Linked DNA regions of Homo sapiens. The protein of the gene in region 2 interacts with the protein of the main gene of each other region in a pairwise test. Each region holds a gene or a part of one and is shown on either strand. Other genes may lie near its edges.

The links. The genes of interacting proteins can lie anywhere in the genome.
Region 1: the proteins of KRT75 (region 2) and LMO4 interact in binary tests that used the Homo sapiens proteins (3 or more experiments, as listed by UniProt).

Annotation. Positions count from the first base shown.
Region 1 is NC_000001.11:87,338,750-87,342,498, reverse strand, and holds part of LMO4 (LIM domain transcription factor LMO4), read right to left. Parts: intron 2,964-3,749; coding exon 2,867-2,963; intron 2,453-2,866; coding exon 2,297-2,452; intron 1-2,296. UniProt on the Homo sapiens protein: Transcription cofactor. Plays a role in establishing motor neuron identity, in concert with MNX1, acting, at least in part, to disrupt LDB1-LHX3 complexes thereby negatively modulating interneuron genes in motor neurons.
Region 2 is NC_000012.12:52,432,358-52,436,106, reverse strand, and holds the start of KRT75 (keratin, type II cytoskeletal 75), read left to right. Parts: upstream 1-1,735; 5' UTR 1,736-1,802; coding exon 1,803-2,300; intron 2,301-2,854; coding exon 2,855-3,069; intron 3,070-3,749.

The DNA.
Region 1 (3,749 bases), on a different chromosome or scaffold from region 2:
ATAGGTTCTTATTCATTGCCTAAAATATAGTGTTCCAAAATGAATACCCTACCACTGCCATCCTGGAAAAGGTGTGGAAAACAGATTTCAATGAAAGGCATAAGACATGTAATCTCATCAACAGGTAAACCTGGTTTTTCTGCAGTTCTCCTCCCTAACACCTCTAAATTTATGCCATCTTATACTATAAAAGATGGTATGAAATCCTGCTCATATTTCTTAGGTGTGCTTTATACTTGGTCCCTACCTAACACTGCTATTGCCTGTATTCAGTGCTTCACAATCTAGCAACATTTTCCATCTCATCTCTACATCCTTTCATTCTCACCATGCATGCTGGTGAACTGCAACAATCATTTTTTTGTATAGTACTTTGCTAAGTCAGAGAAAGAAATGGTATAAAACCAGCAACAAAGTGAAGCTCTAACTCGGGGAAAAATTAAGCTTTTACATCAGAAGGAGTGGAGAGAAGGTCTACCATTTTATTTCTAGCATATTTTTTCTTTTTTGCTACCAAGTGTAACTACAAACAGCTTTACCTCTATTCTGAATAGGTATCTCCAAATATTTATGTTGCTCATTCATTGTTCTCAACTCTGCCCTGCAGATTCACTTCATTAGAATCCAAATCACAAAAATCTTTAAGCATTTATATGTCTTGGCACTCCTTGAAGAAGCTTGAAATACCTCATCAGCAGTGACTGGTTAGTTTGCAATTAAAAAGTTCAACTTTTATTCTTAAAATGGTTATTCTATGTAGCTCCCCATATTAGTAAATTAAAGTGCACATAATGTCATGTAATTAACACTAAGAAACAGAACATACATTTAAAATTACCTCATAAACTTGAGCAAGGGAAAAGGGCAAATATAAGCATCAAAATATGGCAGCATAATTTTAATGGTTAAAAGTTTTCAAATATTTGTCAAACCCCCACCTCCACCACCGCACTAAGAAAATGCATTACAGAAGACAAAAAAGTCTATTTTTTTCCCCGAGATTTTTGAAGCTTGCTAAATTCCTATTTGCAGATAAATGTTGTTTTTTTTGTGATCCTTACAACAGACATTAATGAAGTTCCTATTGTAAATCCATAAAGAATTACCAAGTGAAGTGTGCACTTTTTGTTTCAATGCAATAACTCAGTGCTGTGTGATTGCCTGGGTTAATGATGAAAAAGTCAAACATACTATCAGAGCTGATGGAAAAATCTATCACCAATCTGAAATTAAAATTCATCTGTGGTCAATAAGATTTAATATCCATGCAAGTGGCGCTGTAAAGAGTAAATGAATCAATGTCATCAATACATAATCAGTATGAAATATGATGTGAATAAAATTATGCACACGAGTCATACATTTCACTCTTTTCTGGGCCGGTGTGGAATGAACAGTCTCTTAACTGAAGGTTGACAGTAATTGTTACAAATTAGGCACAGCAGTTATCAAAATGCACTCACTTGCATAGCTATAGGACTTATTAAGGAGATTAAAATAGATCTAAAACTATCCAGTACTGGGGGTGCTGGACAACTGTTGATCACCAATTTTCCCTCTGGAATATCTTCTAATACTACATGATTTGTATACTTGTATAATTTCCTAATTTTTAATTCTGGTACAAGGATTTTCAAGTTGTGGATCAAGAATCAAGATACATAATTTCTAATGGCACTATTAATGGCACTAAGCGGGTTAGCAAGAACAAGAACTTGGTTTTAAAAGCCATAACTTATTCAAATGTTATGGTACCGCCAATGAACAAAAATGCCCTCTTATGAAGTTACAGAATGTTTTGTAAAATTACTCTTCTAAAAAGTAAATGAATTGTAAATTGGGTTTGGAAGGCAGGTGTCCAGATTGCTATTCCTAACGCAGAAATCATTCTTTCATAACAAAGATCTTTATTCTCTTTTCCTACCATAAATGTTCTAATTTTTCTTCCACAATAACCTATCACATCATGTTTCTGAATTTCAAAATTGTCAAATGGAATAAATAACCAGTTATATGGAAGCTTTACATTTTGTTTGCTTTTGCATGTGATAATCTTATGTTCAACGTGAGTGAAGCTACAGATATAACAAAGTCAGGATTTTTTTTTTAACTAGAAAGGATTCACAATTTAATCAGCTATCCTACTTCTGAACACTCTATGTACAACTAGTAATCTACATTTCTTTAAAAGGGCATGCAAAAATACAACCACCCAAGAAAACTCTCTTGCTAGGTTAAGAGGTTGAACCTTCCAACTTGCTCTAATAAAGCTTATTAGTAATTGCTGGGTATTCACCTTCTGGTCTGGCAGTAGTGGATTGCTCTGAAGTGAATTCAAATGGCCATTGATGAGAGCTGTAGGTCTATCATGTTCACAAAATAAACTGCCATTGATGTAGTGAAACCGATCTCCCGGGACCAGGCGATTCCGGCAGGTAGAGCATGTAAAACACTGAAAGGGAAAAACAAACCCACTGAAAACAAGGTAAAAATTAAGTCTTTTTTTGGTCACAAGTTTATAACCTGTTATTAAGCAGGTATCTGTCAAGTACAGAGACACTTAGGGTTTAGCGTTTTTTCTTCCTTTGACAGATCTCCAGAAAACAGTAAGCCAAATTGCTATCAACTGGACCAGGCTAAATGGGGACAAATCCAAATACATGTGTACTTCTGTCTGTGGCATAGGGGAAGCGTGGTCTGTGCATGTGGATGTGTAACCATCACTGCCATGCTACAATTTCAATCATTCCTTCAAGTGTCTGCAGCTTGAGAAAACAGTTCATACCAAGGAGAAATGCTTTGCCCCCATGTAGGTAGGAAAGGTATGATTTTTTTTTTAAAAAAAAAAGAGAGATGCAAATACTACCTTAAGATGATACACATTGCCTTGCGCCCTCATGACGAGTTCACTCGCAGGAATCGACTGTCCGCAAGCGCTGCAAGCACCGCTATTTCCAAATAACCTGAAACAAAGAATAACGGTTGACACCAGTGAATAATCCTAAACCAAAGAAAAAGAAAGAAAAACACCCCCAGACTCTGGGCATCCCTTTGGAATGCATTTGACAGGCTGAATTCTTAGGCTCAAGCCTCAGATTTTCTGAGTGATTTACATAATCTGGGAAAAATCCTTTTTGTGGGACAACAAACTTCTGCCTACCGCAGAGGATGCCCCAGATTTAATCAAAATATTGACTTACACCTCTAGCAAATACAATTCTGTTCTACACACATTTTATCAGATTACTAGGTTCATCATAAAAAAAAAAAAGATACAATTCATGACTGGAGTTTAAATGCATTGTGTCCTTGAAATTATATGAAGAACTCTTTTGTACTTTAATCATATCTTCAGATATGAGTCATCAAAAGGGTTAAGAGGATTTGATTGTATATCTAAGAAGACATCATGCTCAGTGTATTGAAACTCCCGTAAACCTCCATCAGTGCAGACTTTCCATTAGAAACTCTCTGCTATCCAGGTTGATATATAATGTGTATGGGTTAACCTTTTCAATCATGGTGTCAACACTTAAGATTTGCCTCTGCTCATCTCTTTCATCCTAACCTTCTCTCTCTCTTGATAATGAAATGCTTGCTCCAACTTCCCTCTATCTGCTCCTGAGTCCACAATTTAGATTACTTCATCTCTGCTAGCAACAAACTGAATGAAATTTCGATTTGAGCAGAAAGTAATTTACCGGGATCTGGACCCATTTGTCATCATATCTCTCTGGGTGTTTGCTGTA
Region 2 (3,749 bases):
ATGCCCTCATCCACGAAATGGAGACTGAATGCTGATTAATTCCTCTCTTACTCTCCCAGGCTTCAAAACCACAGCAAGAAGAAAGCAGGCAGCAAGATAAAAGAAGATTCAGGCCAGGCGCGGTGGCTTAAGCCCGTAATCTCAGTACTTTGGGAGGCCAAAGAGGATGGATGACTTGAGCTCAAGAGTTCAAGACTAGCCTGAGCAAAATGTCGACACCCAGTTTTTACAAAATAGTAAAAAAATTAGAGAGGCATGGTGGAGCATGCCTGTAGTCCCAGCTACTCAGGAAGCTGAGGTGGGATGATCACCTGAGCCCAGGAGGTGGCGGTTGCAGTGAGCCGAGATTGAGCTGCTGCACTCCAGCCTGGGTGACAGAGTGAGACCCTGTCTCAAGGCAGAAAAAAAAAGAAGATTCAGCAATGTTTTGGTTTGACTCTTCCCATGGTAGAGATGGGGCAATGAGTTGCAGAACAGAGAGATGAGGTGCCTTGAAGTCTTCTTTGCGGTTTGTAGACTAATATAGAATGTAGGGCACAGTCTACAAGGTTAACAGGAGAAACAGGGAAGGAACGAATCCTCTGCTAGGTGCAGCTGTTGGAGCTCTTTTGATGAAGGACTGGAGAGCTAGGAATTCTTGGTCCTCAGGAGGAGGAGGAAACTGCCTGGGAGACTTCTGGGATAGGCAGCCTCAAATGCAGCTTGGAGGTGATGATTCATGGTACACCATCTTGTACAGTTTTATCTTCCCAACAGGACCATGAGCTTGTTGAAGATAAATAATGTGCATTGTGTTTCTTTTGAATTCCCACAGGACTAGTCACAGGATGGACATGGTTGGCACTTCCTTAATATTACTTGATTGTATCAGAAAGAGGGGAGCCTCAATAGACATTTACTCAGCACTTACATATACCGGGCATTGCGAAAGTTTTCACATGTGAATATTCATTACAAACCCCATTTTACAGACATGAAAGTTGAGGCACAGAAAAGTTTCATGGCTTGCTCAAGGTCCCACAACTATGAGCAGGTCTGAGATTCAAACCCGAGTCTTTCTCCTCTCACAACCTCTCTTCCCAGGAGACAGAGCACTGGCTGGCCTTGAGAGTCACATTATATTGCAGTGGGCAGGGCACAGGCACACATACACTCCAGAAAACCATGTGTGACCTACACAATAGACACGGAAGCTTAAGAGCAGAATAAAGGGGCAATCAAAATGGGGTGGATTCCTAAGGAAGATGATTACAGAGCGCGACCTTCAAGGTTTGGAAAGACAGCTTGATGGGGCTTGGGGAACCAGGCAGTAGGTGCTGAGAAAATGCTTAGGGAATAGGAAGCACCCCAAGGAAACAGTGAAGTGTAGTGGCTTGTATTAACACAAGATGTTTGGACAGGACGGAGTTGGTCCCAGGCCTAAGAAAGCGGTTTAGAAATGAGGCAGTGTTTGCTGAGTCCTTTACAAGATGCATCATTAGCACATGACGGAAAGCAATTAACTTGCTTCTTACTCATATGCTGATCAAGTTGCAACTGGAAAGGAGTTTGCACGTTGTGGGGAGGGGGTGCCAGGGAACCAGCCAGTGGCCCTTACACCATTTCCCGAGGGATGCCGAGTGTGAGCTCAGGGTTGGCGGATGCCCAGGGAATGCCATCAGAAGGCCCTCTCCACTAGCAGTGCCCCGCCCCCACAGGATGCTCATAAAAGCCACGAGACCAGGGCTCTCCAGCCACCTGTCTTCTCCACTGCCTGTACCAGCCCACCTCAGGTGCCTTCTCGCCGGCCTTCCTCACCCACCATGTCTCGGCAGTCCTCCATCACCTTCCAGTCTGGCAGCCGCAGGGGCTTCAGCACCACCTCGGCCATCACCCCGGCAGCTGGCCGCTCCCGCTTCAGCTCTGTCTCTGTGGCCCGCTCTGCAGCAGGGAGTGGGGGCCTGGGAAGGATCAGCAGTGCTGGGGCCAGCTTTGGAAGCCGCAGCCTCTACAACCTGGGGGGTGCCAAGCGGGTCTCCATCAATGGGTGTGGCAGCAGCTGCCGAAGTGGCTTTGGTGGCAGGGCCAGCAACAGGTTTGGAGTCAACAGTGGATTTGGCTATGGGGGTGGAGTTGGAGGAGGCTTCAGTGGCCCCAGCTTCCCCGTGTGTCCCCCTGGAGGCATCCAAGAGGTCACTGTCAACCAGAGTCTCCTGACTCCTCTTCACCTGCAAATCGACCCCACCATCCAGCGGGTGCGGGCCGAGGAGCGCGAGCAGATCAAGACCCTCAACAATAAGTTCGCCTCCTTCATCGACAAGGTAAGCAGGGGCTTCATCCACCCCCTTGGGTTTGGGATCAAATAAACTCTTGGAAGGGCCATCCCATGGGGGGAGAGCAATAATGCAATGACCCCACTGTGGGAATGAGCACTGTTCAGCACGGGCTCCCAGGGGCTGAGACCCTTCCAAGTCAGGCCAGCTTGCCCCACAGGACCTGGTAGAAATTTCCTCTCTTTCGGAGCCACATGGGCTGGTTCAGTCAACACCAAGGGAAGAGTTTTGTTGATTCTCTACAGGAGAGTTGCTGCTCAGCAAACTACCCTAACCCAGAGTAGGTGGTGTTGAGAAACTTAACCCAAGAGCAGCTCCCCAACAGAAGCCTCTAGGCCCCACCACCCGAATCCTATGCAAGCCCTAGGGAACTTTGCGGTAGCTCCATGGACTGCCTCCTTTTGGGTTGGAGTTGTCAGTTACATTATTGTCAATGGGTGCCAAGTGAAAAAAATATCTTTTTCTTCTCTCCCTTATTAATAGGAGTGTCTAACTCTGCCTCTCCAACTTCTCAAGGTTTCATTCTCTCTTCTTCCCTCCAGGTGAGGTTCTTGGAGCAGCAGAACAAGGTCCTGGAGACCAAGTGGGCCCTCCTGCAGGAGCAGGGCTCCAGGACTGTGAGGCAGAACCTAGAGCCCCTCTTTGATTCCTATACCAGTGAGCTCCGACGGCAGCTGGAAAGCATCACCACCGAGAGGGGCAGGCTTGAAGCTGAACTGAGGAACATGCAGGATGTTGTGGAAGATTTCAAAGTCAGGTAAGTGGGAGACTGGCTTCTGGCCACACACAGCCATCTGAAGGCTCCTTTGTGTGAGGACCAGAGAGGTGCAAAGGAGCAAATGCCGATATCAGCCGGGAGCTTTGGAACTGCAGCCTTTATCCTGCAAGGTGGAGACAGCACTGTGTGGGGTAGCACAAGGACCTTCATCTTGTGTATTGCTATGAAGATCCTATTCCTATTTGTTCACATGACTGCAAAGGGATATCAACATCATCCGACAAAATATTGCTACTCACTCTAGAAATCATAATGTAATTTCACAGTCAGCATATTGTTTAATTCCATTGGACATGGGCTCAATTATTGAGATGGTTTGCATTTCCAGGATGGCATTCACTGTAGAGTGAAGAGAGGTAACAAGGAAGAGTTTAAAGGAGGGCAATCTGACTTTTCTTGTGGGGGGAAACTTTTGACTGCACATCATCCAGGCTGCAGTAGGTGAGGTATCCAGTGGAAAGGGATTTGGTCCAGACTAACCCATTAGCCAGCTTGCCCTTATTTCTAAGCTTGAGCTACCCCTAGTTACAAAAAGCATATTTCTCAGGGGCCACCCTGAGGTTCAGTGAAAATATATCAAAATCTACCCGAAACAGCCTGCTGAACAGATAAAGTTTACTCCACGATTTCGGTAGACACTTGAGGTGGAAAAACATTTT